2 separate regions of the Homo sapiens genome follow, and region 1 is linked to region 2. The links come from fine-mapping of genetic effects on gene expression. A gene starts in region 2. The other region holds a variant in brackets. All regions are shown on one strand. Distances are from middle to middle. Region 1 overlaps SIRPB1 (signal regulatory protein beta 1). Region 2 holds the start of SIRPB1 (signal regulatory protein beta 1).

The links.
Region 1: its variant is fine-mapped to the expression of SIRPB1 in whole blood (TOPMed, PIP above 0.99).

What each region holds. Positions count from the first base shown.
Region 1 is chr20:1,563,069-1,578,695 of GRCh38, forward strand. SIRPB1 (signal regulatory protein beta 1) reads right to left here. Exons shown (of 6, transcript NM_006065.5): 2 at 15,270-15,626; 3 at 8,652-8,969; 4 at 7,737-8,069; 5 at 3,085-3,199; 6 at 1-2,429. The coding sequence ends at 3,087. Among named protein-coding and RNA genes, the nearest start is that of SIRPD, 13 kb to the left of the region's middle. The variant C/G (reference allele first, on the strand shown) is at 7,383.
Region 2 is chr20:1,614,511-1,630,137 of GRCh38, forward strand. SIRPB1 (signal regulatory protein beta 1) reads right to left here and starts at 5,499. Exons shown (of 6, transcript NM_006065.5): 1 at 5,359-5,499. The coding sequence starts at 5,434. It overlaps SIRPG (signal regulatory protein gamma), which reads right to left. Exons shown (of 6, transcript NM_018556.4): 6 at 14,642-15,126.

The sequences.
Region 1 (15,627 bases), 51 kb before region 2:
GAAATGCCAGCAAAAAACTTCACATGAAAGGATCTTCTGGAGTGATTCCACAATATTGAAAATTCAAGGGATAAGATGTTGGAAGCTAGTCCAAACTTAGAAAGATGGCAAAACACCAAGGTATAATAGAAATGATGCTTGCTGGCTAGGCATGGTGGCTCATGCCTGTAATCCCAGCACTTTGGGAGGCCAAGACAGGTGGATCACCTGAGGTCGGGAGTTCAAGACTAGTCTGATCAACATGGAGAAACCCCATCTCTACTAAAAATACAAAATTAGCTGGGTGTGGTGGTACATGCCTGTAATCCCAGCTACTCAGGAGGCTGAGGCAGGAGAATCACTTGAACCCTGGAGGCGGGGGTTGCAGTGAGCCAAGATCACGACATTGCACTCCAGCCTGGGCAATAAGGGTGAAACTCCATCTCAAAAAAATAAAAATAAAATAAACAAATGAAAAGAAACAATGCTTGCTCCGTGTATTAGCCCATTCTCACACTGCTATAAAGAACTACCAGAAACTGGATATTTTATGAATAAAAGAGGTTTAATTGGACTCACAGTTCCACAGGCTTAACAGGAAGCATGACTGGGAGGCCTCAGGAAACTTACAACCATGGTGGAAGGAGAAAAGGAAGCAGGCACCTTCTTCACATGGTGGCAGGAGGGAGAGAGAGAGAGAGAGCGAAGGGGGACTTGCCACACACTTTCAAAAAACCAGATCTCATGAGAACTCACTGAGATCTTATGAGAACTCACTATCACAAGAACAGCAAGGGGGAAGTCCGCCCCCATGATTCAGTCACCTCCTACCAGGCCCATCCCACAACACATGCAGATTACAATTTAAGATGAGATTTGGATGGAGACACAGAGCCAAACTATATCACTCCATATTAGAAATATACAAAAAAAGGCAAGCACTCTTCCAACTACTCTGGATACATTTTTACAAAGAAACAGCACTTGAACTCTCAATGTTTCTAATGCTTTGAATTGTAGTGCACAAATAAATATTTATTTCATTATATTTTCATTGTCCTCTACATTTGTAACTGAGAGTGTGAGAGTTTCTAATATTTTGACAAAAAATGGTAAAGGTCACAGAATGATCATTGTTTTTCTGATTGACTATGGAGACTGCTTTCCTGGGTTTCAGGTTGCACAGTCATTTTTGCAATCTTGCACTGCCATGAAAAGTGAGGGCTGCCTGTATTCGGCATAATACTCATCAAAATAAGGGCTAAAGAAAAATTAATTAGGATAAGAGAAATTAGAATGCCGGGATAGAGAAAATAAATAATATTTTATACAAGGTAGTTTATAGAAGGTGCCTTTAATGAAGTGACATTGAGCAGAGACTTGAAGGAGGGAGAGCGGGAGCCATGCAGCTGTGTTGGGGAAGAAGCAGAGAAGTGATATGATTTGACTTTTCCAAAGAATCACTGTGGCTGAAAAATGAAAGCCAGAGGAGTGGTCCCCAAAGAGATGATGCTGGCTGGGACAGGGAGGGGTGGTGGAGGTGAGAGGTGTGGAGAATAGGGATTTAACTCTGAGGTTTCCAGCAGCAGGCTTGGACTGGGCCCTGAAAACCAATTGTTAAATTTCAGGAATCTTGCAATCTGGTTGTTTAACTGTTGGCAGTGTGAAATTGGTCAGGTTGGGAGTTATTACACTAGAGAAATTGGCAAGCACTGCAAAACAGCTTTTGGTTTTTCCCTTTCAGAAAGTCCATTGTTAAACATTTACCATCTCATGTAAGTGGACACATGCATTTTGGAGGCAGAACTGAATATGAGTTGTAAAGGGCAGTCATCGAGGGCTCCTCAATGTTGGGCTGTGGCAGCATTTCTACCACAAGCAGCAGGACTGGGAAGGCTGCAGGATACTAGAAGAAATACTGTCTCCATCACAGAGAGAGAAGGGAGAGCTTCTTTCTTTTTGGGTTTGAGGGATAGGATGCTTGGACAAAGAGGAAAGAGAATCATTTTTTTCTTAAAATTGGTATAGGGGTTCATGTGTATTCAGGAGGCAGTAGAGAACCTCAACAAGGCTGGGGGAGTTGGGGTAGGCAGGAATCCAGAAGACAGGATAACTCTTGAGAGCCTGGAGAGAGTCTGTGGTTTATGGCCAGTCCCAAGGCGACGGATGGGAGAAGTCCTGGTGTGTTTAGATTTGGAGTGTTTCTCACCTTCTAGGGAGGTGCCATGAGTCAGTGCCCAGAGCCCAATCCCATGGCCCCTGCTCAGGACCGTGAATAGAGACACTGCTTTGGGGCATCATGGTCTTGTGAAGGTGGAACAGGAGCGTGTGGGCAGGCAGATGACCTGGGAGAGGAGGCGTTTGGAGCTGAGTGTGGGGAAGGTTCTCGCCAGCTCCTTCTCTCAGGCTGAGCTTCTCAAGAAAGGAGGAGGCAGCAGAGACTGAGGGTCCTACATGGCAGGGAAGGAAGGAAGGAGCTGTTGGAAAACACATCCACATTCATTCATCTGCTCATCATTTAAGAAATGTTTCCTGAGAGCCTGATATGTCCCTAGTGCTGGTCTCCTCTTGGGATGCCTGTTATGGGTGGACAGGCAGACCTGAGATAGGACTCTGCCAGCTCAGCACTTCTTCCAAGTCCTGATGCTCCCTCTTCCCCGCTTTCCACTCAAGCACACAGAAGGTCAGAGCAGGAACAGCCCTCAGAGCAGCCTATCTGGGAATTCTCAACACTACGGTGGGGATTACTTTGAACCCATGGAGTCCCAGCAGTGGCCTCCAAGGGACCACCCACTCAGTTGGCCCTCACTTAGACCCCTCTGTCCACCTTTTCCATGGGACTCCTAGGCCACTGGGGACAACTTTGAACCCCCTTGAAGCATCCCACCTCCTGTAATACCCTTGACCATCCCAACTCCTGCACACTCCCTGGGGGTTGGGAGCCCCATACAGGGTTCCCTGAGACTCCTGAGTATCCTGAGGGAGCCCTGTCACCTTCTGTAAACTCCACTGACCCTGAAGCTGCATGGCATGTGAGCTGGGCCCTCCTGCTGGCCTTGCCTTTCTGGAGGAGCCCTTGGTCAGTCCTCCCTCTCCTAAACTTACAGTCAGGCCTTCTGTTTCCAGCAGATGTAGATGGCAGAGACACCAACCACCAGTAGCAGCTTGGGGCCCAGGAGGAGAGCTACGAGGAGTGGAGCAGTAGGAGCCAGCGCTGCTTCTGGAAATCAGGGAAGAGGAGGAGCCATGAGAGGGGCCACCTGGGAGCTCATCCCAGGGGCCTCCACTTACCCCATCTGAGGCTACCTGGGCCCATCAATCCTCTGAAGCTTTTGAACTTGCATCCTGCTCTGGCTTTCCTGACTCCAGCCGAAAGCAAAGGCCAGGGAAAGTGGCTCCTCATTCTCACTCACCCTGTCCCAGGCTGCCAGTTTATCCTCCTGGAGGGAAAAGGTGGAGAGAGTGTGTGCTCAGGTATTCATATATGTGGCAACTGGGTTCCTCACTTGATCCTCACACGCCCATGGGGCAGGGATTATTATTCCATTCTGATGGGGAAACTGAGGCCAGAGAGTTTAGGGAGTGTCAGGAGATTAGTAGGATCCAAACCTAGGGAAGCCCATCATTATGTCCCCAAGGGTGACTCCTGAGTCCAAGACAAGTCCAACACTCCAGGATCATGAGAATGATTAGTAAAGGGTGGGCAGGTGGTGTGAGGATGGATTCAGAGTGAGAGAGTTGCATGCTGCCCTTCTTAGCCCCAGGGGCAGGGAGAGGACCCCATATTCTCATGATCTCAGGGAGCCCTCCAGGGACAAGACCCAATTAAACCTGCTGGCTGGAAAATTCCCTGGTGAGTCAGGGAATGTGCCTCGGGCTTGGAAGGGCCTCAGACATCATCTCTCCTACCTCAACCCCAGTGCAGATGTCATCTGAAATCTTTCTGTTGGACACAGAGAGTCAGATCTACGGAAGCTCATGTTGGGACTGTTTGCATTTTTTAAATAAGGGGTTTTGGATGTTAAAAGTAACAAAGGTATTAAAAAAAATTTTTTTTAAAATAAAATGGTGCTGGTGGGTCCTTAAGGAAGGAATGGAGACCTCAGCATCTATAGCCGCTGGAGTGTTGGAGTGTTGCAGGCCGGCAGTTCTCAGATGGGTGGCTCTCTGGGGCTTTCTCTCCTTTGAGGAGAGCTGCACTGCCCAAGTTTATTCCTTCTAAGGGGCAGCCCACATGAGAGATAGACTGCATTGGGAATATGAAGGGCCAGCCCTTCCCCTCAATTTGAAAAAAATCTACAGGACCCTCCGGCCTTTTGCCTCTCTGCAAGAGCAGCTGCATCTTTGTACTGCCTGCACTGTGGCTCAGCACCTCCCTCCTCCTACACTCCTGCCTCCTCATTCCTGAGGCATGTTGACCCTGACAGCACTCTAGGATGCCTCCTGCATTGCTTTATGCATCCTCAGGTGGCCTCCCAGAGAAACTGTCCTTGGGAAGTGGTCTGGAAAGAAGACTCTAAAATATAAGTTGGGAATCTGATTACTCATCAGCTAGCAATGAGGACCCCAGGGCTGGTGGTGAATGGGACTGGAGAAGCCGTGACTTGCTGTTGTGTTGCGATTGATAACACTTTCACTGGCACTAAACTGGGATAGTGTTACCACAGGAAGGAAATTCCTTGCCATTAGCCTTTTGAAAACAGATTGGGAAATGGTCGTTATAAGAACTAAGGTGTTAGCTGTTGCTGGGCATGAACTCTTGGGAGGAAGGCAATGAGAAACTAAGAGTGATTCATCATGAGTTAAAGTTCAGCTGGAAGCCAGAGGACTTCTTGGCAGCACTGCAGATTCTTATTTCTTGGAGCCACAGGGCAGAAGGAATAGAGAATTGGGTCCTGGGCATCATAGAAGAGTAGCAGAATCACAGCGGAGCATGAATCTCAGTTTCAATGGCTGCTATGCTGGGATAGGGCCCTGATGGGGAAGTTGTGGGACCCTGAAATGTGGAAGGAGACATTTGGGTCAAACCACTCAAAGATTGTCAGTTGACTTCAGAGTTACTGGGGACAATTGCAGTGGCATCGCTACTTGTCGCTATAAATATCCTCCCCAAGCCAAAAGAAGAAACAGAAAAGGAAAAGTAAATTCTACACAATCCAGGCCCTAAATATTGCTTGAAGAGAGAATGCCAAACTGCAAAATGGCTGAGTCAAAAGGGAACACTCACCTAACCCTAGGGCACAGTCTCTCACTAGGCTCCCATGCCACTGATGCAGCACGTCACAGAAGGCATCCTGCAGTTTGCCTGCCAGCCTAGACAACCTAAAATGCATTTCCAGACTTAGCATATGTGCCAGGATGCCATGTCAGACACACTGAAAGAACCCAAAAATGGCAGCCCTCTCTCAGCCCCAGTGGGTGGTTGGAAGTCTAAGAAAAGACTCAACCTTGTCCAGATGGTACAGACTCATCTCATCCTGTGCCTCCTTGAGAAGTACAACTATGAACCCAAGAAATATCATGAGGAGCAGGCATAGGAGAACTTCCAAGGTGGAAGAGCGAGGTAAGAACCTGAGGACTGAGGAACAGCCCAGCAGCCAAACAGCAGGGACTCTATGCCCAAATACCAGCCCCCAGCCACAGAAAGTGATGAAGGGAGGACATAGAAAAGAGGAGGTCTCAAGTCAATAAATATAAATCCCGCACTTAAAGAAACTACAAAAAGTAGGGCAAAGTAAACCCAAAGAAAGCAGGAGATAGGAATTAATTTAAAAAAAAAAAGAGAGAAGAGAGCAGATAATTAATGAAACTGAAAACACAAAAACAATACAAAAACCCATTGAAACAAAGAGTCAATCTTTTGAAAACACCAATAAAATGGGAAAAAACTCTAGCATGACTGATGAAAAAGAAAAGAGAAATGACACATTTTTAGTATCAGGATGAAACGTGGGATACCATTGCAGACCCTGCAGACACCAAAAGGGTTATGAGAGGATATTATGAACAACTCTACACACATAAATATGACAACTTAGATGAAATGGACCAAAAGTTATGCAAAACACAACTTACCAGGGCTCACTCAATAGGAAACGAAAAATGTGAATAACCCTAAACTATTAACGACATTGAATCTATGATTATAAAATATCCAAAAATATCCCTGGGGCCCAGATCTTTCAAAGGAAAACACAAGCATTTAAAGATAAATTAAAACCAAATTTAACACACAGGAAAATGGTTCTAAAAAATTTGGTAAAATGTGAATGTATGCTCCATTTTAGATGATATGAGGAAATTATTTTAATAACTTTATGAAATTTAGTGATTTGAACACTTAAAATTTAAGTGGACAATGACACTGGTTTTGTGAAAAATGTCCTTGATCACATGATCCCTCAATGTGCAACTGCAGGTGCATGCGTGAGCAAGTTTTCAGTGGACGTGACTATGCACCTTCCACACATCTCTGATGATTGGGGACATTGTTTGTCTTCTATTTCGTGTCTTTCCTCTTCTGGCAGGCAGGGACATGAACAAATCCGTGACTCAGCACTGACCCAGGAGATGACGCAAACATCATAGGGTGTTTTGGAAGGAACCTGAGTCCTTATTCTTATTTCCTGGAGCCTCAGGGCAGAAAGAATAGAAGATTGGGCCCCAGCCATCATTAGAAGAGTAGCAGAATCACAAAGGATGTTGAATGTCAGCTTTAATGGCTTCTATGCTGGGGTTGGGCCCTGATGGGGAAGTTGTGGGACCCTGAGATGTGGGAGGATGTATTCGGGTCAAAGCACTCAAAGATTGTCTTTCGACTGGAGTAGAGGGACCCCTCCTGGTATTAAAAGAGAGGGAAATAAGACATATTTTGGTTATAGAGAGGGGGAACACTGGCCAAATTTGGGTCCTTGGGACAAAGCGCAGCAGAAAGGGAAAGTTTCTCTAATTAGCACAAATTCCCATTATAGCCTGGTAGTGAGCCTGTCCTCAGGGACTAGATTTACCTTCATTACTTTGGACCAATAACCTGGTCTAATGACAAGAAGTCTTCAACAACATCCCTCATTACTTCCTAAGTCCTGGTTTCCCCTTTGGTAAAACTCCAAGCTCACTGGGTGTTTGAAGCAGGAAAGGAGATCAGAGATGAACAGAAATTTGCATATAGTAAATGTGCAGAGTGGTTGTGATTATTGTTGGTCAAATATCACCATCAGAACACAAAAGAAGCCTGTGCTGTGACCAGGTCACCTGGGGGTCTGTCCAGGCTTAAACTTCACTTGTCTTTCTGAAATTTATAGAGCAGATGCTGGAGACTGGTGGCTGAGGTCACAGATGCGGATGGAAAAGTTTAGGATAGAATAGGGACAAGGTAGAGGTTAGAAAGTGTAAAAGGCAAGGTG[C/G]TGTGCTGGCGAGAAATGCAGAAGAAGGCGAGACACAGGACTTCATAAACAAACGGATCACCTCCCTCTCTCTTTTTTCCTTTAATGTATATTTATGTCAAAATATCTATCAAGTTGTGCATCAGACTTGACGCACAGTTTCTCCTGGTAGATGGGGCTTAAGGGTGTCTACAAATGGCCAATTGTTACCTTGAACCTTCTAAGTAGTGGTGACCCATGGAGTGTAGGATTTTAATGTAGACGTTAAAATTCTACTTTATATTTATAGACTTCTAGCTTATTTTATGACAAGCATGAATATTGCTTTTAACATTAAAGAAAAAGACAAAATTTAAAAATGGGAAGTAACCGCACCATGGGTGATATCTGAGCCGTGCTCCTTCTGGTGCGCTGAGATCTCCAGGGCATAGCTTTTGCTGACTGCTTGCTGCCCATCATGCTCCACCTGACAGGTGAGCACCACATCGTCCCTGTGGGCACAGGTGTTCACCAGGAGCCAGCTCATCCAGTTGTAGGTGCCATCCTTGTTCTCTATGAGGGTCGAAGCTGTTTCTGTCCGGGACACATTTCCATTCTCCAACCAGGTCAGCTGTAGTCCCCGGGGGTAGAAATTGCTCACCTGGCAGGTGACGTTTGCCTGGTTCTCTGCCCTCATGGGCTGTTGAGTAACCTCCAAGGTGGGTGGAACTGAAACAGCACAGGGCAGAAGCTCTGATCTTGTGGCACAGACAGATCACAGGGAGGGCTAAATAACGTAGCTCCCACCAACACAGTGAGGGCATCACCAGGACAGTGCTAGGCAGGCAGCAGGTGCTCAGACATTGAGGGCACTCGTTGCATATGAGTGAAATTACTAAGCACAGTGCCTGGCGCACAGTAGGTGCCCAAGGACTGTTAGCTGCTGCTAGGCTAAGGATGAGTGAAATCTACAAGCACAACCCCTGGCATGCAGTTGGAATGTAAGAACTGTAGCAAAATCAGTGAAATCGCCGAGCACATAGTGATTTGGCTCCTAGTAGGTGCTCACTAATTGTAGTTGCTCTTGGTGAAATAAATGAAACTCTGTAGCCCAGAGCTTGGCACATGGTTGCTGGTCCCCTGACAGCTGCCATTAAAATGATAGTAAGTGACCGGCTCACCTAGGTGCATGGGAGGTGGACAACACAGTTAGGAATTAGATTCCAGGCCTTTCAAGCTCTGGAGCCTGGGGAGAGGGGAGTGGGCTTGGCAGCCAGGTGTGGGCTTGGGCTGGGTGTGAGGGTCTTCTACCTCGGATGGCCTCAGACAAGTTGGCAGTCCCACGAAGAGGGTCCCCCTGCAAGGTGATGTGGGCTATCTCGCAGATGACTTGAGAGTGAACGTCCCCACGGGTCAGCACCACCCTGGCTGTGCTGTGGATGCTGTAGGACACACTGTCTCCTGCGGGGTCCACGTTGGTCTGGAAGTCTGAGAGCTCATTCCCATTTTTGAACCATTTCAGGGTGATGTCTCTGGGAGAGAAGCCATGGGACTCGCAGGTGAAGCTCACTGTGTGCTCAGGTGTGGCCCTCACCGCAGGGCCCGATACCACGGGGGCAGAGGGTTTGGCTACAAAAGGACCATCGATAATCAGGAGACATGACTCAGATGACCATCACTGATGATAAGCGTTTGACATGTTAAGAACCTTCTGAGACGTTAGTTTTTAATCTTTCTAATAATGTCGTGAAGGCAGTGTCCTTATTCTCATTTTACAGATCAGGACACAACAGCTCTTAGAGGTGAGAACCAGGCCATGGTCAGACAGTGAGTAGGGGCAGGGCCCAGAGGGAAGTCCAGGCCTGAGTTCAAAGTCCTCTCCACACAGGGAGACTTCCACCAATCTGGGCATAGGAACAAAATTACTGATTGGTCTCCCTCCATGTTATTAACTGGTCCTAGCTGTCCTCCCCCGGAAGGCTCACTAACCTCAGAGAGGGCATTTATAGAAGCCAATACAGGGATCAATGGCAAAGTGGCACCACCGTGAGAGCTGCAACCAGGCTGCTCAGCCCAGGACAGGGGTGGGCTGACAACCCCAGCTCCTCATCCGCAAAACAGGAGGACGGAGGACGGCGTTTCTACTTCCTGGGATGTCGCCAGGATTCAATGGGGCAATGGAAGCAGTTTTGCTCTGGATCAAACACAGAAGATGCTTCCCCCAAAAAACACAGATCTATCTTTAACCCAGACTTTACAGATACACAGAGGTCTCTCTTTAGGTATTATAAAAATATGAAACATTCCGTATTTTTCTTTTCACAAATATTTCGTTCTGTCAAATAAAAGGCATTAATTAAGGATAAAGCTTTAACGTAGAGCCAAGAGTTTGTAAGAGCATTGGAATCACACCTGCTAAAGGTCAAGCCACAGGATGTTGCAGTAGATAGACCTGGATAACAACTGAAGCCAGGGTCCGTGGGATTTTGATCTCTTTCACCTGGAGTACTTTAATGAAATAACCAATGAGAGTGGGTTTGCAGTTGAGGATTTTCAACCAGCTAATGAACTGTTTCCAAAAACAACCTTTTGTGAAAATCCCCTATAAAAAACCTGTCCTGTATTGCCATACGGGACACTATTCAGGGTTTCACTGACTCAGTGTACCCAAATTGCACCTCTTTATCTTTCAGATAAATGCTATTTCCTTTGGCCTTCCTAACAATCATTTTGCTGTTGTTGTTAGTTGTTCTAATCTGCTGGAAGTCCTAAATTTGAAAAGAGGAAATTTTTGGGAATCTGAATCTTCAGTTAGGACAGGTTTGGGTGAAAAACAAGGATCACTGAGTACTAAGAAAGCCAAAGGTGGTTAGCTTTTTCATCGTTAATTAATTACAAGAGACAAAGACCCAGGCCACACCAACAGACAGAAACCTATTCTGGGCCTTGAAAGCAAACACATTGGAGAATCAGAACAACGAGTGCAGTTTCTCCATGTAGATGAATTTTAAGGGTGTCTGCAAATTGCTAATTGTTACCTTGAACCTTCTGCCGTCCTCTTAGAAAGCACATATTATACGTTTGACTTTGCCAATATTAACTTGCTCCCTGATATGCGTGAAATAATGTGAGAGCACAGTAAGGAGGGTGTCACTTGAAGATGTCAAGTCTTTGAGACACCAGCAGCATGGGTGTCCCTAGAAGGCTGAGAGGCTGTCTTCAGTTCCGATTTTTTGAGGGCTTCTTGGCAGCCTGATGCTGGCTGCTCTCTCTGTACCTCTCAGCACTTCAATCCTCCTTCTATTTGTCAGAGGGGGTCCTCATGTGAGCCCTTGTGTAGGGCGAGACTCTGAGAGGATCCTTGGTGGCCAAGGGCCAAAAGTAGATAGAAACCCCACCCTGGGAAGATGAGTGAGGGTAAGTGCAAGGGCATAGCCTGGCATGTAGTAGGTGCTTAATAAATAACCCCTGTGACTGTAATCATGAGGTTTGGTCATTACTGCTTCTGGAGCTGCATAGCTATTCTTTAGGCAACAGAACAAAGAGGCACACAAACACCAAGGAAAGGCTCAAACCCTACTCACCGCAGCTGCCAGAAAAAACCCAAATGATAAAAGGAGCAGCAACCACCATGTTTGGCGAACTGGCTTTCAAGTAAGATCACAGGGGAAGCTGGAAGCATTTTGGAAGAAGGAGGGAAAAGATACCTCAGTGACATCTGGGAGTGCTGAGGGAGGGAGGCTTCTGGGGCTGAGGAGTGAGGATTTGCTGGGACTCCAGCACGTGTTTAGATACAAATGTTTTCAAGACAGAAGGTTCCCCAGCCCTGAGGCTGCATCTGAGCCAGGCTTTGTCCCAGTCTCCTATCTTGGGCCCTGAGGCCAGTAGCATGGGAGGGGTCCTGTTCAGGCTTCTGGGGCCTCCCAGAATGTTTCCAGAATGGCTGTTTTGAAGCACCCATGACCCAAAAAGCTGTTCTCAAAGCCCCAAAACCTGGGGCACCGCTTTTGCTAGGGGGCTGTGTATGAGAATCTTCTGGAGCCATTAAGAACTTTAGATATCCAGGCCCAAATTAGATGCAATTAAATTGGCATTTTAGGGGGGTTCCTGGGTCCAGCTTTGCAAACTTTTTTTTTGATAGTTTTCCCAATGATTCTAATGAGCAGCCAAGGTTGAAAGCCACTGGACTCCAACCCAAACCCCATTTATACTTGGGGCCTAGAGATGCCCTGACCTGTCTGAGGTCACACAGCTTCACCCTAACACAACTCACCTTTATTGAGCATTTACTGTGTGCTTGTTGATGCCCTAAGCATTTTACACAATATCACTCCTTCAGACTCGGCCCAGTCTGTGAGGTCAGTGTTACCATCAAAGGGTGAGGACATCGAGGCCTATGGTGGTGAAGCACCTTGTCCCAGGTCACAGAGCCAGGAAGTGGCAGAGCCGGGAAGAGGCCCAGGCAGCTGGGATACTGCCTGTGTTCTCCTAACGACAGTTCTGCAGAAGCTCAGTAATAACCTGAATGACACCACCATTAGGGGCTCTGTGCACATCCTCTCCAATCCTCACAGAACCCAGAATAGGCCATGATAATCAGCATCTCACCGATGGGGAAACCGAGGACTCAAGGGAAGGCAAGACTGGCCCAAGATCACACGATCTTGAAATAACACCTCACTTTGGGGGTGCCTACAGTGTGCTAGGTGATTTACAGAGAGAACCTTACGCTTACGACTTTCCTAAAGGAGTCCATGATTGTCTCTATTCTACAGATGAAGATGCCGTGGCTGAACAAAATGAAGGCACTGTCTCCCGATTCTCCATGTGTCCCAGTGGGCATTTCCTGTGTCCCACCAAGCACTTATGTCCATTAACAGAGCAAGTGTTCTAACTTCTTGAGCTCCAACACTGACTGCCACCTCAATTGTCCCTTTGAGATTCTAGACTTCATGCAATGTTAGGGAGAAGCCTCCCTCCTGGGTGCCCAGGCCTGGTTACCCTGCAGCCATAAGCAAAAGACAGTGGGCTCCTGACAGCCGGAGGGGAGAATCTCAACTCTTGCTCACATGGGCCCCAAACACTCTCTAGGAAATGCCTCATCTCCTCATCCTTAGTCCTCAGCACCATGAACGGGCAGATACGTGCTCTGCTGGGCTGCAGGAGGCTCGACTCTGCTCATTGGACGCTGCTGAGTGAAGAGGAAACAACACAACATGGGGGAAGAGTCCTAAATGCCTCATGTGTGTTGAGACCTGTCCTTTAGGAACCGGCTTGGCATATCATGAGACATGCGCAGGGCCTTTCTGATGGGAGTGTGAAGACAGGCCCTCCTACCCCTACAGGGTTCTTGTTTTGTTTTTAATGCTTTTTGCTGTAGAACTGAACAATGCAAGAGTTTAGAAAGAGAAGGTTGGAGCATTTCTCCACTCTTGAAAAACCACAGTTGAGTGTCACAAAGACAAAGGCTGTGAGTCAGGCTGCGGGGTTCCAGCCTTGGCTCCCTGACCTGCTCCCAAGTCAGGTCTCCTCTCTGAGCTTCAGTGTCCTCATCTTTAAAGGAGGTAGCAAATGGCTTCTCCCTCATAGCACTGGTTATAAGGAGACTCTGGCACAGTTGCTGCTCTCTGGCCCCCTTCCCCACCTCCCTCCTTTCTCATGTAGCTCATCATTTAGGCCGAGAGCATGGCAAAGAGGAGTGAGTACTTCACTAGGAGTGAGCAGATCTGAGTCACACCTGAGCCACCACTGGCTGTGGCTGCCTGGGCTGGGGAGGCACCACCTGGGCATTTCAGTGTCTTTGCCAATATTATCTGCACAATCAGGATAAAGCCACCTTCCTTGTCTAAGTTCAAGGGTTGTGGGGAGCTGATTTCAGTCATTACTGAGCAATGTACATTTTCATGTACATACATGTACATGAAAGCATCATGTTTTAGGCTTTACATATACACATTTTTTTAAAAAGCTGTTAGTAAAGCTATGTGTCTTCTGGAGGTTCTGTTTTTTTGCCTTTCCAAATTCCAGAGGCTGCCCACATTCCTTTCTCACAGTTACATCTTCCCATCACTCTAACCTCTTGCTTATATCCTCACAAGTCCTTCTCTGAGAATTAATCTCCTTCCTCTGTCTTGTAAGGACCTTTCTTATGTATTGTGTCCACCCTGATGCTAGAGCCAGATGTTAAAACCACTGTCTTAAAAATGTTTGAAGTGGGGCCAGGCATGGTGGCTCACGCCTGTAATCCCAGCAGTTTGGGAGGCTGAGGCGGGTGGATCACCTGAGTTTGGGAGTTCGAGACCAGCCTGAACAACATGGAGAAACCCTGTCTCTACAAAATACAAAATTAGCCAGGCATGGTAGCTCAAGTCTGTAATCTCTGATTGCTACATCATCTAGAAGGGAAATTAGGCAATATTCTCAAATATGAAAACACACTATCCTCTGACCTAGAAACACCACTTCCAGTGGGAATCTCCCACCTGAGTAGGGTGACACATGTACAAGGTCATCCACTGCATGATTGTTGTAGTAGCTCAATGTTGGGAATAACTTACATATCCATCAACAGAAGACTGTAAAATAAATTTTGGTATTTCCATAAATTGGAGTATTTTTCAGCTGTAAAAAAACTGGAGCAGTTCTCTATGTCCTGATGTGGAATCTCGATATGAAATGACAGGGCTTACATTTGGGAGAAGTTTTCTAGTCACCAATGAGCTTTAGTATCTGAATGTGAGGTGCATTCTTAACATTTGGGAAACTGATGAAAAGAGAAATGCTGGCTCTCTGACACCTGGCTCTGTTTGGGGAACTTTTATCTAGCACCTATGATGCACCAGGCTCTTCTATGGAGACAGCGTCTAATGCTGGGGAAGGAAGGAGACTGCCACGATTCAGATATGGACTCTGGCTCCAATTCTGTCACTAACTGGCCCTGTGACCATGGACAAGGCCCCTGTCATGTCTTGGCTTCAGTCTCCCATCTGTAAAGGGGGTTGGGCTGGATGGTCTGAAGGTCCTTCCTGTGCTGACATGCCAGAATTCAGCAGTTAAGACGAGGCTTTTGGGGCTCTGGCAGGAAACCCCACATAAGCATTGTTGCTACCTTATATGGGGAACCCCTAAGTCACCCACTTGTGGGACCTCTTTCCTGAGGTGAGGGACATTCTGAGATGATGCAGCTCTGCTCGGAGCCCATGGTAACTCTGTGACTCAGTCCCCAAATCACAGAAGGGTTTCCCAAATAGACCCACAGCAAATGCCAAACATATTGGCATCTCCTCCCACCAAGCCATCAGATTCAACCGTGAATGTGCCTCCGAGAAATCTTCCCCGTGGGGTGTTTCTGAAGATTAAATTAAAAAAAAAAACAACCACGATTTACCCTCTCCATGCCCTGGACGGATTTCTCCTCATTAGAAGGGAAGAGAATGTAAGCTTGGTGGGGGAGCGCTTTAGGCTGTTTCATTCACTGCTGTTTGCGCAGCATCCAGGGCAGAGCCTGGCACACAGTGGGGTCTCAGTGACTGCCTGTTGCATAAAGAAGGGACTTGGCCACCCTGAGGGGGAAGCATTCTCTGGAGGCAGAAGGCAAGGTCCAGCCCTGTGCCTGGACAAGTCACTCAAATTGTGAGTTCCCTCATCTGTGGAACCAAAGGGCTGGGTCAGCTTTGGAAACACAAGAGCTGTAGAGCCGCAGACTGGGGATGCCTTCTGTCCCATCATTTACAAGCCGTGGAGCCTCGAGCGACTGCCATGACATCTCCAAGCCTCAACTCATGTGATCTGGAGAAAGGGTGACATCAGTTCATGAAAGGGTGGCTGCTCAGCCACCACCACACCTGGCTGTTGCTCCAAGAATGGATAATGTAATTATTGAGTTATTGTCACACACCAGGGGACAAAGGAGGCCCACGCTGTACTCACCGCGCACAGACAGCTCAGTGCCTGCTCCAGACTTAAACTCCACGTCGTCAGGGCTCCCTTTCCGGAACTTCACACAGTAGTAGGTGCCGGCGTCTGCTGGGGTGATGTTACTGATGCTGATGGAAAAGTCCAGGTTGTTTCTCTTTGTGAGTTCTGAAACAGTTGTTACCCGTGGGAAGTGGCCTTCTTTCTGATTGTAGATTAATTCCCGGCCTGCTCCAGCTCCTCTAAACCACATGATGGGCCCCACAGGGATCAGGGACGTCATAGCACAGCGCAGAGTGGCCGACTCTCCAGCTGCAACTGATACGGACTTTTCAGGCTGAATCACCTGTAGCTCGTCCTCACCTGCCACTCC
Region 2 (15,627 bases):
CCTCCACCTTGACTCCCAGTAAAGGCACTTGCCCAGGGATCCCATCTCTCTTGCCTACCCATCTGCTTGATTGAGCCTGCTCCTTGGGAGCTCCTCCCACATGGCTTCCTGCATGGCCTGCCCTACTTCCTTCTCTAGGAACTGTGAGTATGCCTCTTCATATGAACTTTTCATGGCCATGTTAGAGTGATCCTCAAAATTCAACCAGCAGGAATCACTCTAACATTTTCAATAGTAATGGCAATGAGGATGGGATCATTCTAAACTCAGGTGGAAAGTTCCTAGGGAATGCCTTTGACTCATGACTTACTGATTTGCTACTCTGATTGGCTCCACAATTTGAGAAGGCTTTTCACCCTGATGACTTTCTTGTGCTATGCTATGTACAGCTTTGTGTTGCCTTTTGGAGTGCTGCCATGGCTCTCCATCCTGAAGCGAGGATCCTGTTCCAATATCAATAATGACATCTGCCTTTCTTCAAGAGCACAAGATGATATAACATTGGTAACACCTCTTCAAAGAAGATTCATGTGATATGCATATTAATGTCACATAATCCAGCATCAGTAAGTTTTTTCTGGGGTGCTTGTGGCAACATATTCTTCATTTACAAATTTTACTTACAAATTAAAATCAACAGGCCCTCCTGTTAGTGTCTTTAAATGAATTAACAAATAAAAGTATCTCTTCTCTGTAGAGACTTTGGCTGTGTCTTTCATGCCTCTTGGAGTCTCTAAACCACTCATGATGGCCAGACATTTTCCCCAGGGCCTTTGATGCAAATATAATGCCCCTCTCAGCTTTTGCTATACTCCATTACAACAAGAAATTTCTGGTTATCTATTGGGCTCTCCTGGCTTAGAGTCCAGATCTGGGGAGCATACTTTCCTGTCGTACTCTTTAACCATAAATTGTCCCAAAGCCAGACTCTGCTTATCTGAAATGGAGCCCACTGGAATCTAAACTTCCATGAAAATACAAAACTAAGATCACTGCCAGGTAGAGCTGCACACCTTTCTGTTAACAGTTGGCATTATTATTACTCGGTTTGTTGATGCAATAATCCTCAACCAAACACTAGCTGAGTTCAGCAGCATATTAGAAGGAATATACACAATGAGCAAGTGGTATTTATTCCTGGAACACAAGAATGTTTCAATATACAAATGACAAAGAATGTAATACACCATATTTATAGAAGAAAGAGAAGAAACACATGATTATCTCATTTGATGCAAAACAGCATTTGAGAAATGTGGACATCTTTTTGTGAAAATACCATCAATAATAGGAATATATGAAAATTTCTATAAGATAAAAGTTATATACACATACCTTATTTTATTTTCCCTTATCAGTGGCTAATTTATGATTTTATTTACCTATTTATCATGTATATTGATTACTGTCATTATTATGACTTTATTGAAAAAAGAAATCAGTAAGGTAATCGCATTTACAATTACTACCAAAAAAGCTAAAATAGCTAGAAACAGATTTACTCAAGGACATGAAAGACCTCCACAAAAAAAGCTATAACACCCTGATGAAAAATAAATAGAACAAAAATAATGGAAAGATATCCATGCTTGTGGATTAGATAATTACTTTTGTTAAAAATATACATACTACCCAAAGAGATCTACAGATTCAATTCATTATTAGTAATATTTCAATGACATTTTCCTCAGAAATGGACAAAACAATCCTCAAGTTCACATTAGTCATAGAAAATTGTGAGTAGAAAAGGCAATCTTGAGCAAAAAGACTGGAGGCATCACATTGCCTGATTTCAAACTTGACTACCGTGCCATAGTAATCAAAACAGCATGGCACTGGCATAAAAATAGACACATAGACAAATGGATCAGACCAGAGAGCCCAGATATAAACGCACACATTTACACTCAATTGACCTTTGACAAAAATGTCAAGCAGACACAATTGGGAAAGGTCAGTCTCTTCAAAAAGTGGCATTGGGAAACCTGGATATCCATCTGTAGAGGAATAAAATTAGACCTTCCTCTCACATGACACACAAAAATCAATTCAAAATGTATTAAAGACTTAAGTGTAGGATCTAAAAGTGTAAAAGTACTGGAAGAAAAGTGCCATGACATTGGTGTGGGCAATGAATTTTCAGATATGAGTCCCAAAGCACAGGCAACAAAAGAAAAATAGACAAACGGCATTACAACAAACTAAAAAGCTTCTACACAGCCAAGGAAACAATCAACAGAGTGAAAAGACAACCAGCAGAATGGAAGAAGATATTTGCTAGCCATGCATCTAATGAAAAGTCAATATACAAAATATATAAGGAAGTGAAACAACTCAATATTAAGAAAACAACCCAACTAAAATATGGGCCAAAGATCTTAAAACCCATTTCTCAAAAGAAGACATTAAAATGGCCATCAGACCTATAAAAATACTCAGCCTTACTATTCATCTGGTAAATGCAAATTAAAACCACAGTGAGCTATCATCTCACACTTGTTAGAATGGCTACTATAAAAAAGATGATAACTAGTTTTGGAGAGGATGTGGAGAAAAGGGAATTCTTGCACATAGTTAGTGGGAATGTAAATTAGTAGAGCCATTAGCAAAAACAGTATGGAGGCTCCTCAAAAAATTAAAAATAGAACTATCATATGATCTGGCAATCTCACTATTGGGCATACATCCAAAGGAAATGACATAAGCATGTCACAGAGATATCTGTGCTCCCATGTCCATTGCAGCATTATTTACAATAGCCAGGATATTAAATTAACCTAGATGTCCATCAGCAGATAAATGGAGAAAGGAAATTGGTATACACAATGGAATTCTAATCAGCCTGACCAAAGAAGGAAATCCTATCATTTCCAACAATATAAATGATCCTGGAAGATATTATGCTAAGTAAAATAAGCCAGGCACAGAAAGACAATACTGCATAATGTCTCTCATATGTGGAATTTTAAAAAGTTGAACTCATAGAAGTAGATAGTAGAATATTGGTTACCAGGCACTAGGCAGGGGGTGCATTTGGAGAGATATTGGTCAAAGGATACAAAATTTCAGTTTAGTTAGGAGAAATTAGTTCCACAAATCTATTGTACAATATGGGGTCTAGAGTTCATAACACAATTCGTAACCTCAAAAATTGTTGAAAGCAGATTTTGAGAGATCTCACCACAGAAATGATACATATACAAGGTAGGTCATATGTTAATTAGCTCAAATTAGGCATTCTGCAATGTACACATATTTCATTAATATGGTATACATGATAAGTATATACAGTTCTGTCAAATAAAAATAAAATATTTTGTTAAAAGTTTCATTGAAATTAGAAACTTGGAGAAACAATGATAAAAAATGAAATCTCCTGTGTGTGCATGTACACTTACTTATATGCATACATGCATATACATATGTATACACACATATGTATACACACATTTGCAAATATATATACACACACATATATGTATATATACACACACACACATATATATGTATATATAGACACACACATATACATTCACAAATATATATCAAAGTGTGACCTATTGTGATAGTATATAAGTTTGTTTTGTGTATTAAATAAAATTACAACACACGTTAAAATCTCATTAAAATATCTGGCCCATAGAAAGTAAAATATGTGGCCCATAGAAAGCATCCAACACATTAATAACAAATTTAGAAGTACATACATCACAGTTGTAACTCTGGTTGTTGCTAACAAGTGTGGTAGGCAATAATTAATTCTATGTTTACTTCCCTGCATTTTCTAATATTTCTGCTAGTAGCATAACACGACTAAAAGAATGAACTTTGGAGCCGGTCGACCTGGACTTGAATCTCAGCTGCTCCACTGACTGAGGTAGGGGACAATGAATGGACAAGTTCCTCCCTCTGCCTGAGTCTTTGTTTGGAAATAGGGGATAATAGTTGCAGCTTTCACACAGGGATGTTGTGAGGATTAGTGGAGCTAAAACAGGCAAAATGCTAATAACTGTGTCTACATGGTAGGAAGAGCTCAATTGTTAAACTCTTACTGCTGTCATTTGGGTACAGTGTATGTGTGAGAAAAATAATTTGAAAAGTGAGACCCCTGCCCTCTAGGGCCTGTGAGGTGACATCACAGCAGGGCCCAGTGGGGAATTGAGAGGCTGCTGTGCCCAGCCCTGTGGTTCTGGGGTCAGCTCCATGGCCTGAGAAGGGATCAGGACAGGTAACTTGTCTGGGAGCTGTGAGCAGGGTTCTCCCAGGCTGCACCAGGAAAGGCCCTCCAATCCTGCCTGTCTTGGGAAGGGGAAAGAAATTATCCATGGGAAATTTAAGAGAACCAAAGGAGGTTGTAGTACCTGTTATGGGCTGAATGTGTCCCACAAAATGCATGTGTTGAAGCTCTAATCCCCAGCACCTCTGAACGTTACAGTTTGGGAGACAGGGTCTTTAAGAAGTAATTTAGTTAAATGAGGTCATTGGGGTGGGCCTTAATACAACAAGACTGATATTCTCATAAGAAGAGGAGATGAGGACACAGACACACACAGAGGAAGATCATGTGTTTAAGACACAGAGAGAAAATGGCCCTGTATAAGCCAAGGAGAGAGACTTCAGTAGAAACTAACCCTGCTGACACCTTGATCTTGGACTTCAGCCTCCTTAACTGCAAGGAAGTAAATATCTGTAGTTTCAGCCACCCAGCCTGCAGTTCTTTGTTATGGAAGCCCTAGGAAAGGAATATAGGACCCAGTAAGCAGCAAATGTGGAACTTCTTAAAGAGGAAGAGGCCACAGAGAAATGGGTGGTAAGAATCAGGTCACAGGGGAGGGAGGAGCATGGGGGAACAGAGGACAAAGTGAGGAGCACCCTTAGGGAGGATGGTGGCTGAACACTCCCAGGATACACCACACCACTGCCCTACTCAAGTGAGCACTATTACAGACTTCACATCCTCAGTTTGGTGAAGAGAGAGGGCTGGGCCTAGAGCCACATAACCCTGTTAGGGTGTCTCTGAGCTTACTCTGTGGACTTGGGCATGTCACTTGGCCCTAGGGCCTCAGGACTGGTGAGGATTTAGATAATGATTCTTCTCTGCTTTTTCAATTGAAATATTATCAAAATGTAAGTAATTGTTGTTGTGGTGGTTGAATCGTCCTGTGGTTCAATGCCTCTGGTAGCCAGCTGCAGATCCACAGAGAAAGTGCTCAGCTCCCTGATTTTCTGCTCTCAGTCAAAGCCTAATCCTTGGCCTTTCTTGGCAGCACTTGTCATTGTCCGGAATCCCTGAAAGTCCAGGGACAGGCCATGGCTCAGTGGGCAGGAAAAAAGATTTTAACCGAAGGCAGTGCTCACCTGTGAGTCTCCCCAGCAGTAGCGTCATCAGCAGGAAAGGACTAGGAAGGTGGGGCCAGGAGGCTGGCACGGGCATTCTGGAGACCTTAGGAGCCTGCTCTGTCCAAACGTCTGTGCTGGGAAGATCGCAGACTCTGCTCTGAGGAGAGAAGACAAGCCCTGCCTCCCTTAGTTCAAGAGGAAGTGGCTGCGATGGAGTGAAGCAGTAACCTGCTTCTGGATTGTGAAACAGAAATCAGGAACAGCAAGCAGCTACAATGCAAGCAGTTATGCATGCCCCATTTCAGGAGAATCAGACAGGCTTAGCAGAAATAATGCTTCCTTCCCACCTGAGGTCTTAACTCCTTCCATGACTCCTAACCCCATCTTTATGTCTTCTTGGTGATTTGCCATTTGGTGCTCTTAAGCCAGGAAGGACCTGTGGTTATGAAATGTTTCCTAAACTTTCCATCTCAAGACCTCAGGATGTGGTTGGCTTGTGGTCTCATTCTACAACAGCCTCAACCAAGTGCTACTCAGTTGGGGCAGGATGAGGGATCACTGGACCTGCTCAGTGTTGGAGAGGAACAGGTCTGCTCTTGAAATGGTTCCCTATTCCGAACTTTTATAAATATAAATGGCAAAACTTAGCCCAAATTCAGTCTCATGTGGCCGTTAGCACTTTCATATGCCTGCACCCAGCAGAAGGAATTATTTCCTGACTTCTTCCAGGAGAGGAAGTGGGCTTAGGGTAATAAGGATCTGCTTTGTGAGGTGAGGTGGGGATTATGGGTTATGGAAAGGGGATATGTTTATTATGGGGGAGAATATGGAGGGCAGATTCCTGGAGCAGTCACATCGATTTCAATACTCTTTGCTCTGCACATAGAACACCTATTCCATTCATCACTGTCTTCAGATGGGAACTGAGGAGGGAGGGAGAATAAATACCCTAAGAAGATGTGCTAAGGAGTTGGGGAAGTTACTGGGCCTGCCTAGGTTCAGTTTTGCCTTCTAACCTTGGGATAATAAGTCTCACTGCCATGTTTTAGTGAACATCAAAAGAGATAATGACTATACATCCCTGAGATTCAGTAGGTTATTATTGATACTCATGGTGCCAGGTGAAGAGAGGGAACTCAAATATTGCTTTTAAATGGATTTCTACTGCATGCTGAGTTTCCCACCAGTGGCCTTCTCCCATGTTCCCCGGACTTCTGGAACCCAGCTTTTATGGTGTACTTGGTCTACCTCTGACACTCTGAGATCAATTTCTCCCTCTGGATCCTCTTCACCCTGCTTTTTGTCAATCTGTAGATGAATTCCTTTTCTTACAATCTCCAGCTGTGTGACTTTCAACAAGACACTTGACTTCTCTAAGCCTTAACTTAATTACATGTAAATGGAAGTTATAACATGCACCTTGTAGTGATATGGTAAGAGTAATATAAGCCATACAGAAGGTTTGATTCATATTTAATTATAACCAAAAAATTGTGGCTATAATTACATTTGTGTACAGGGTGAGTTCACTGCTTCCCTGACATACTTGTGCTTTAGAAAAATTTCCTTGGTAGGAGAAATGGTTTCTCCTCCATCATCTGTGACTAAGAAAGACCTGTCTGGAAACCTCTCTTTCCCATGCTGGGCTTGCAATCCTTCACCTATCATGAGTAATTGTCAAATGAAATTGTAAAAGTCATCACATTTCCATGCAAATTTCTTTTTCAATGTGGCAGATGCACAGAGGGTGAAATCATCACCTCCTGCTCCACACTCACAGAAATGAATATAAAAATGATAAAATCATGTTAATCGATGCCAAATTACACTTTAAAACAAGAAACTAGTCTCTATATGACATGAAGGGTAGTAGCTGCTGTGTTTACTGCAGATGTCCTGTGCTCCAGGTACTGTGCCAAGCATTTTGTCAGTTACCTCATTAATTCATCACTCTGGTCCCATGAAATTAGCACTACCATTAACCTTTTTTTATAGGTGAGGAAACTTGAGGCACGCAGGCAATAATACATTTGTTCAACATCACCCAGCTTTTAGAACTAGAACACAGGTTGTCACACTCCATGGCCTTCACTATGACACCTCTCATAAGAAGGGAGAGATATCTCTCAGGAAGGAAGCAGAGAAGAAGCCATAACGTCAATTAGGCGCAGCCTCCACAGCAAGGTTGGGATAGGTGCCATGTTCCATAAAGTGCTGACAGCCCATGATCACTCAGGGCATTATTCCTGTAAAGATTACAGTGAAAGCAGTAATCACTAAAGATTTGGGGAAAAGCGACATCATAATAAATTCAAAAACAATAACTAAAAAACAAAAACAGCAATGAAAATAACATCTTAGAAAATAATACCTCAGAAAATAAAAATATAAAATGTGAAAATATTTTTAACATTAACATATTTAGTAACCTTATAGAGATAATGAAAAGAAAGTAAATCCATAAAACAAAGTCACGTGTGAAACAAGAATAGGTAGGTGTGCAGTAACAACAGGTATCTGAGAAAAGTAATAAAAAGAAGAATTTTGAAAAAATATAATTAGTGCTAAATTGTTTAAAAAACAAATAGGTGGATGTATTAATCTGTTCTTTCTATAATTGTTATAATGAAATACCTGAGACTGAGACTGGGTAATTGATAAAGAGAAGAGGTTTAATTGGCTGATGGTTTCAGAGGCTTTACAGGAAGCATAATGCTGGTATCAGCTTCTGGGAGGTCACAGGAAACTTACAAAAATGGCAAAAGGTGAAGGGGAAGTGAGCATATTTACACGACCAGAGCAGGAGGGAGAGAGAGAGTAGGGAGGTGCCACACATTTTAAAACCACCAGATCTCATGAGAACTCACTCATCATCATGAGAACAGCACCAAGAGGGAAATCTGACCCAAAGACCCAGCCAACTTCCACCAGGTCCTACCTCCAACACTGGGGGTTACAATTCAACATGAGATTTTGGTGGTGGCACAGATCTAAACCTTATCATTTTCTCCTGCCCACTTTCAAATATTATGTCCTTATCACATTGCAAATACAATCATACCTTCCCAGAAGTCCCCCAAAGTCTTAACTCATTTCAGTATTAAGTCAAAAGTCCAAAGTCTTATCTGAGACAAGGCAAGTGCCTTCCACCTATAAGCCTGTAAAATTAAAAATAAGTCAGTTACTTCCAAGATACAATGGGGTATAGGCATTGGCTTTAGCCATCTGAATGGGAATACTCCCATTTCAAAAGAGATACATTGCCCAAAAGAAAGGGAATACAGGCCTATGCAATGCAATCTGAAACCCAGCAGGGCAGCCATTAAAGCTCCAAAATTATCTCCTTTGACTCCATGTCTCACATCCAGGGCACACTGGTGGAAGGGGTGCACTCCCAAAACCTGAGCAGCTCCACCTCTGTGCCTTTGCAAAATTCAAATTCCACGGTTCTTCTCATACTTGGTGTTGAATGCCTGCAGCTTTTCCCCGCACATGGTGCAAGCTGCTAGTGGATCTATCAATCTTTGGTCTGGAGGAAGGTGGCCCTCTTCTCACAGCTCCACTAGGCAATGCCCCAGTGGGAATTGTGTGGGGGCTCCAACCCCACATTTCCCTTCTGCACTGCCCTAGTAGAGGTTCTTCATGAGGGCTCCGGCTTCTGCCTGGACATCTAGACTTTTCCATATATCCTCTGACATCTAGGCAGAGGCTCCCAATCCTCAGCTCTTGTACTCTGCATACCTGCAGAATTCACACCACATGGAGCCACCAGGGCTTATGGCTGGCACCCTCTGAAGCAGCAGCCGAGATATACTCGAGCCCCTTCGAGCCAAGACCGGAGCTGGAGTGAATGCGGTGCAGTGGGCCGTGTCCGAAGGCCGCACACGGCAGCAGGCCCTGGTTCTGGCTCTCAAAACCATTCTTCCCTCTTAGACCTCTGTGCCTGTAAAGAGATGGTCTCTGAAATGCCTTTGAAGGCTTTTCCCAGTGTTTTCAATATTAGCATTTGGCTTCTTTTTACTCATGCAAAGTTCACAGCCTGCTTGAATTCGTTGCCTGAAAATGGGCCTTTCTTTTCTACCACATGTCCAGGCTGCAAATTTTCCAAGCTTTTATGCTCTGCTTCCCTTTTAAATATAAGTTCCAGTTTCAAGTCATCTCTGTGCTTACGCATATGAATTAGGCTGTTAGAAGCAGCGAGGTAACTGCTTCTTCTTTTTTGTGTGTGATATAAAGTCTTACTCTGTCACCCAGGCTGGAGTGCAGTGGTGCAATCTTGGCTTACTGCAACCTCCATCTCCCGGGTTCAAGTGAGTCTCCTGCCTCAGCCTGCTAAATAGCTGGGACTACAGGTGTGTGCCATGCACCACCACACCTGGCTAATTTTTTTTTTTTTTTTGTATTTTTAGTAGTGATGGGGTTTCACCATATTGGCCAGACTGGTCTCAAACTCCTAACCTCGTGATCTGCCCGCCTCGGCCTCCCAAAGTGCTGGGATTACAGACGTGAGCCACTGTGCCCCGCCTCAGGAAATTTCTTGAATGCTTTGCTGCTTAGAAATTTCTTCCAGCAGATACTCTAAATTGTCACTCCCAAGTTCAATGTTTCACAGAACCCCAGGGCAGGGGCACAGTGCCTCCAAGCTCTTTGCCAAGACTTAACAAAACCGATCTTTGCTCCAGTTGCCAGGAAGTTCATCATTTCCATCTGAGACCTCCTCAGCCTGGACTTCATGGTCCATATTACTCTCAGCATTTTGGTCACAATTCAAGAAATCTCTGGGAAATTCCCAGCTTTCGCTCATCTTCCTGTCTTCTAAGCCCTCTACACTCATTCAACCTCTGCTCATTATCCAGTTCCAAAGCCACTTCCACATTTGCAGGTAACTTTATAGCAATGCCCCACTCGTCAGTATCAATTTTTTGTATTAGTTCATTCTCACACAGCTAAAAGAAATACCTGAGACTGGGTAATTTATAAAGAAAAGAGGTTTAATTGGCTCCTGGTTCCACAGGCTGTATAGGAAGCATGATGCTTGCATACACCTGGCTTCTGGGAGGCCTCAGGAAACTTACAGTAAGGGTGGAAGGCAAAGTGGATGGAGACTTATCTCACATGGCTGGAGCATGAGGGATAGAGAGGGTGGAGGTGTTACACACTTTTAAACAACCAGATTTCACCAGAACTCAGTCACTATTACAAGAACAGCACCAAGAGGGAAACCTGCCCCCACGATTCAATCACTTCCTAGCAGTCCCCATCTCCAACACTGGGGATTACAATTTGACATGAGATTTTGGTGGGGAAACAGATCCAAACCGTATCAATTGAGTAGCTGACTGTACATAAGTGAGTAGTAAGTTAGTGAGCTGGCTCTTCATGCAGGGACAATCTCCTAGAACCCAGCACCAAGAGACACACCCAAACAAATTAATGACAATAGGTATAAATATAGCAATGGTAAAAGCTGTAACACAAAATAGTTTGAAAATGTTGCAATAGAAATACTATCTTAAGAAGCATAGTTTAAGGTAAAAAGCACAAATGGTTGAAAGAGAAATGTTTCCTTTTATGAAAGTAACAACTAACCTGAAAGATGAGTCACAAAATATTATGCCTCCAAAAATTATGATTTGAAATATATGACTCAAATATTGATAGAATAATTTCCATGCTCTGGCAGAATCTCTACTTAAAGCAGCAAGATGACTTCCTGTGAACTCCAATCCTTCAATGAAGATCTATTAGATGCATAGATACAATTTGAGTGAAAAATTTTGTGGAAATCATGTGGAGAATTGAGTTTCAAATTTAGGTTGACTTTGTGCAGTACAGATACAGCCTGGATGTCTGAGAAAACCAGGAGCCTGGGGAACCATGAGCTAAAATTCTCTTTCTGCCAAGTTTAGCCCTGCACTCATGACAGAAGGTGCAGATAATGAGATAAGGCTGTGGGACAAGTGAGGAGTCAGTGGATGTTTGAGGAGAGCAAAGATTAAGTTTGTGGGCTTAGGAATCAGAACTTCTAGATTTGAATTTAGTTCTATCAGTTCTAGCTGTGTGACCCAGGGGAGTCTGTTTAACATCTCTGTTTCTTGAGTTCTCTCAAATATAAAATGGAAGTAATCGTATCAACTTCAGAGGTTTGTTATGGTCATAAAATGGATTAATATATGTAAATTCCTTAATAATTGCTGATTGTGCTCCAAAAGTTAGATGTTATTGTTATTAGGTGGTGTTTTGGCAATAGTAATACCTTTAAAAAACAGACTCTCTGTCCTCGAGGATTTACGATGCAGTGCGACAACCCTGGCCAATGGCTGGGGGATGTGCAGATACCACCACATGATGAGTGTGGGTCACGTGTCTAGCCCTATAATCACGAAGTCATTACTAGCACCTGGGTCATGGTACAAGCATGACCTCGGGAAATCACTGTGACTAAAGAAAGGCAAATCCCGGTAAGAGTCTGCACAGATGCTCACGGAAAGTGTACTCCAAATCTTGTCTCCTGCTGGGATGGGAGAGAAGAAAATGTTCCCAAATGGAAATCCATAGATACGGGTGAGATGGGCTGAGAGGGTGAGGAGACTTACATATAAATACACCTGTGTAGAACAGGCTGCTCTCACCTGTGAGTCCCAATAGCATAAAGAGGCAAGGGTTGTCCAGGTGGGCTGGAAGACAGGTATGGTCATTGCCTGCTCTGTTGAAAGTTTATCACGGAGAGACCCCAGCCTCTGAGCTCTGCAGGGAAGGAGAAGCCCCACCTGCCATGATATCTGAGGAGGGAATTTGCTGTGGAAGGAAAAGGCCACGAGACTGGCATGGTCTCATAGTAAAAGAGGAAGCAGGCAGAGTTGCCACCCCTGGGAAGTTGCTGATATCCACCTTGGGGTTCCCACGCCTGGGAGCCTTGGACAGTAGTGGAGACAGTTTGACTGCTCTGGGCCTGCTCTCTGTCCCAGGGGCACTCACTTCATGCCAGGGTTCCCTTGGCCCTTCCTCAGTTGACAGCCCTGATCCACAGGGCCCTGTAGCTAAGGACTGAGTTTGGATTTTCAGAGACTGTAATTCTGGGTGTGGAAAGTTTGAGGTCTTGTTACTGTAGCAGCCTTTAAGGATGGAACCAAAACTCCTGGATGTCCCCTGCAAAAAGTCCCTAGGGCCAACATCAAGTAACAAGCTGAGCAAATAAGAAATGGCAACTCTTCTCAGGTCTGTCAGAGAAATGAGGTCACAGAGCAGACCATTGTCTCCAAAACTGGAAGTTAGACAAAATGATATAGAGAATTACAACTTCCTGAAGCCAAAACCTCCATGGGAACCAGTGCCAGGGTAGGAAAACCTGCACTGTAATTGAAGAATTGCTAGAGGCTTGGTGTGGGCCAGTCTGAGGAACAGATTCCAGCAGGACCCAATCGCAGGGAACTCCAACACTGTTGTGAGATTTACCTCCAGGAGCTTGATTAGGTGCTCAGAGTGAATATGAGAGAAACATTCACTTGTGCTTCCTGGGGGGTGTGGAGGGGAAAGCGAATCATTCTGAACTACACCAGAGCATTCTTTCTTCTTACCAAGCCCAGCTCTCAGGAGAAACTATTTTACCAGTGCCTAATCTGCTGGGCTTTGATCAGAGCCTAACCTACCTGGGGAAGGCAAGCACCCAACTCCAGCCCCCTCTGGCCATCCTGTCCCACCATAGGGGAAAAAACTGAGAGGCACTTGTGAAGTCCACAGGCCAGGGGCACAGGCTCACATAAGACTGCAACCTCATGTAACTGGTGATGAGCCCATGTGACATTTTTGGGAAACAAATAATTGAAAGAGAGATTGGACAACCACAGTGAAAATGCAGTGAATAAATGAGCAGTGAAAATGCTGGAGATAAAGTTCAAATTGTATGTCAGTGGAGTTATAGAAGCATGAATAGCTGGTGAGGCAACGTAGACCCTGGTAGTGTTTGAAAAACTTCAGATAGGCAGCCCGCAGGACTTAGAGAAGGTGAATTTAACAGATACGGGATGGGGTACTGACAAATAGGGCGAAGGTGTCCCTGAGGATGTGACAACAGCAAAAATCTTCACGTGAAAGGAACTTTTGCAGAGATTTCACGACACTGAAAGTGCAAATGATAAGGTGCTGGAAACAAATCCAAACTTAGAGAGGAAGGTGATAAAACACCCAGATAGAAAGGATGTTTGCTCCATATCCGAAGTGTACAAGAAGGAGGTAAGCACTCTTCCAACTACTCTTGAAACATTTTTACAAAGAAATAAAATACTGAAACACTTGATGTTTCCAATGTTTTGAATTACAGGGTACTAATAAATATTCATTTATTATTTTTTATTGCCTTCTACATTTGTAACTGACACTATGAGAGTTTCCTATATTTTGACAAAAAATTGTAAAGGTCACAATATGATCATTGTTTTTCTGATTGGATGTGGAGATTGCTTTCCTGGGTTTCCGGCTGCACAGTCATTCTTGCAATCTTGCACTGCTGTGAAAAGCGAGGGCTGCCTGTATTCGTTATAATGCTTATGGTAATAAATGCTAAATAAAAATTAATCAAGATAAGAGAAATTAGAATGCCAGGGTAGACAGGAGAATTGATATTATGTACAGGGTGGTTTGCCAAAGGTGCCTTTAATAAAGTGACATTGAGCAGAGGCTTGAAGGAGGGATGAAGGGAGCCATGCAGCTGTGTTGGGGAAGAAGCAGAGGAGTGATACAATTTGACTTTTCCAAAAATCCCTGTAGCTGAAAAATGAAAGCCAACAGAGGCTACAGAAGTGTTCCCGGAAGAGATGATGCTGGCCGGGACAGGGAGGGGTGATGGAGGTGAGAAGTGTGCAGGTTAGGGATGTAACTCAGTGCTCTCCTGCAGCAGGCTTGGACTGGCCCCTGAAAGCCAACCGTTAAGTTTCAGGAATTTTGCAATCCAGTTGTTAAACTTCTGGTAGCTTGAAACTGGCCATGTTGGGGGTGATTATACCACAGAAATTGTCAAGTACAACAAATCAGCTTTTTTTTTCCTTTAAGAGAGTCCATTTTTAAACACTTACCATCTCACGAGTGGACATAAGTATTTTGAAGGCAGAATTGAATATGGGGTGTAAAGAGACATCAGGGAGGATTCGGGAGTCAAGGAGGCTTTTGGACTGCGGCAGCATTTCCGCCATGAGCAGCAGGGCGGGGAAGCCTGCAGGATGCTAGAACTAGTGTTCCCATCACAGAGAGAGCAGGGAGAGCTTCTTTGTTTCTGAGTGTGAGGAGTAGGACCCTTAGACAAAGAGGAAGGATAATCTTTTTATTTTCTTAAAACCACTTTGGGAGTGCATTTGTATTCAAGAGGCAATAGAGAACCTCAACAAGGCTGGGGAGTTGGGATAGGCAGGAATCTGGAAGGCAGGATAACTCTTGAGAACCTGGAGAGCGTCTGTGGTTTACGGTCAGTCTCAAGGCGATGGATGGGAGTCCTGGTGTGTTTAGATTTGGCATGTTTCTCGCCTTCTAGGGAGGTGCCGTTAAGTCAGTGCCCAGAGCCCAATCCCATGGCACCTGCTCAGGACCATGAATGAAGACCTTGCTCTGGGGCATCCAGGTCTGTGTGAAGGAGCAACAGGAGCCTGTGGGCAGGCAGATGTCTTGGGAGGGGAGATGTTTGGAGCCAAGTCTAGAGAAGCTTCTCACTGGCTCATTCTCTCAAGCTGAGCCTCTCAGGAAAGGAAGGAGGCAGCAGAGATGAGGGTCCCACGTGGCAGGGGAGGAAGGAAGGAGCTGTAGGAAAACACATCCACACTTAGTCATCTGCTCATCTTTCAAGACATGTTTCCTGAGAGTCTGTTATGTTCTCGGGGCTGGTCTCCTGGGATACCTGTCACTGGTGGACAGGCAGTCCTGATAGAACTCTGCCTGCTCAGCCATCCTGCCAAGTCCTGATGCCCTTTCCAATATTCCTTCCACTCAGACACACAGAGGGTCAGAGCACAAACAGCCTTCAGGGCTTCCCATTTGGGTTTCTCAACATTAGTTTACAATGTGGATTTCTCTGACCCCATGGAGTCCCAGCATTCAAATAATCTACAGATAGCCTGCAAGGGACCACCCACTCATCACTGCCTCCATGAAACTCCTAGGGCACTGTGGACATCTTTGAACACATTTCAAGCATCCCACATTGTACACCACCCACATAATTTCTGTGGGTTGGGAGCCTTTTAAAGGGTTCCCCAAGACTTCCGAGGGTGCGGAGGGAGCTTAACTCCACGGACCCTGGTG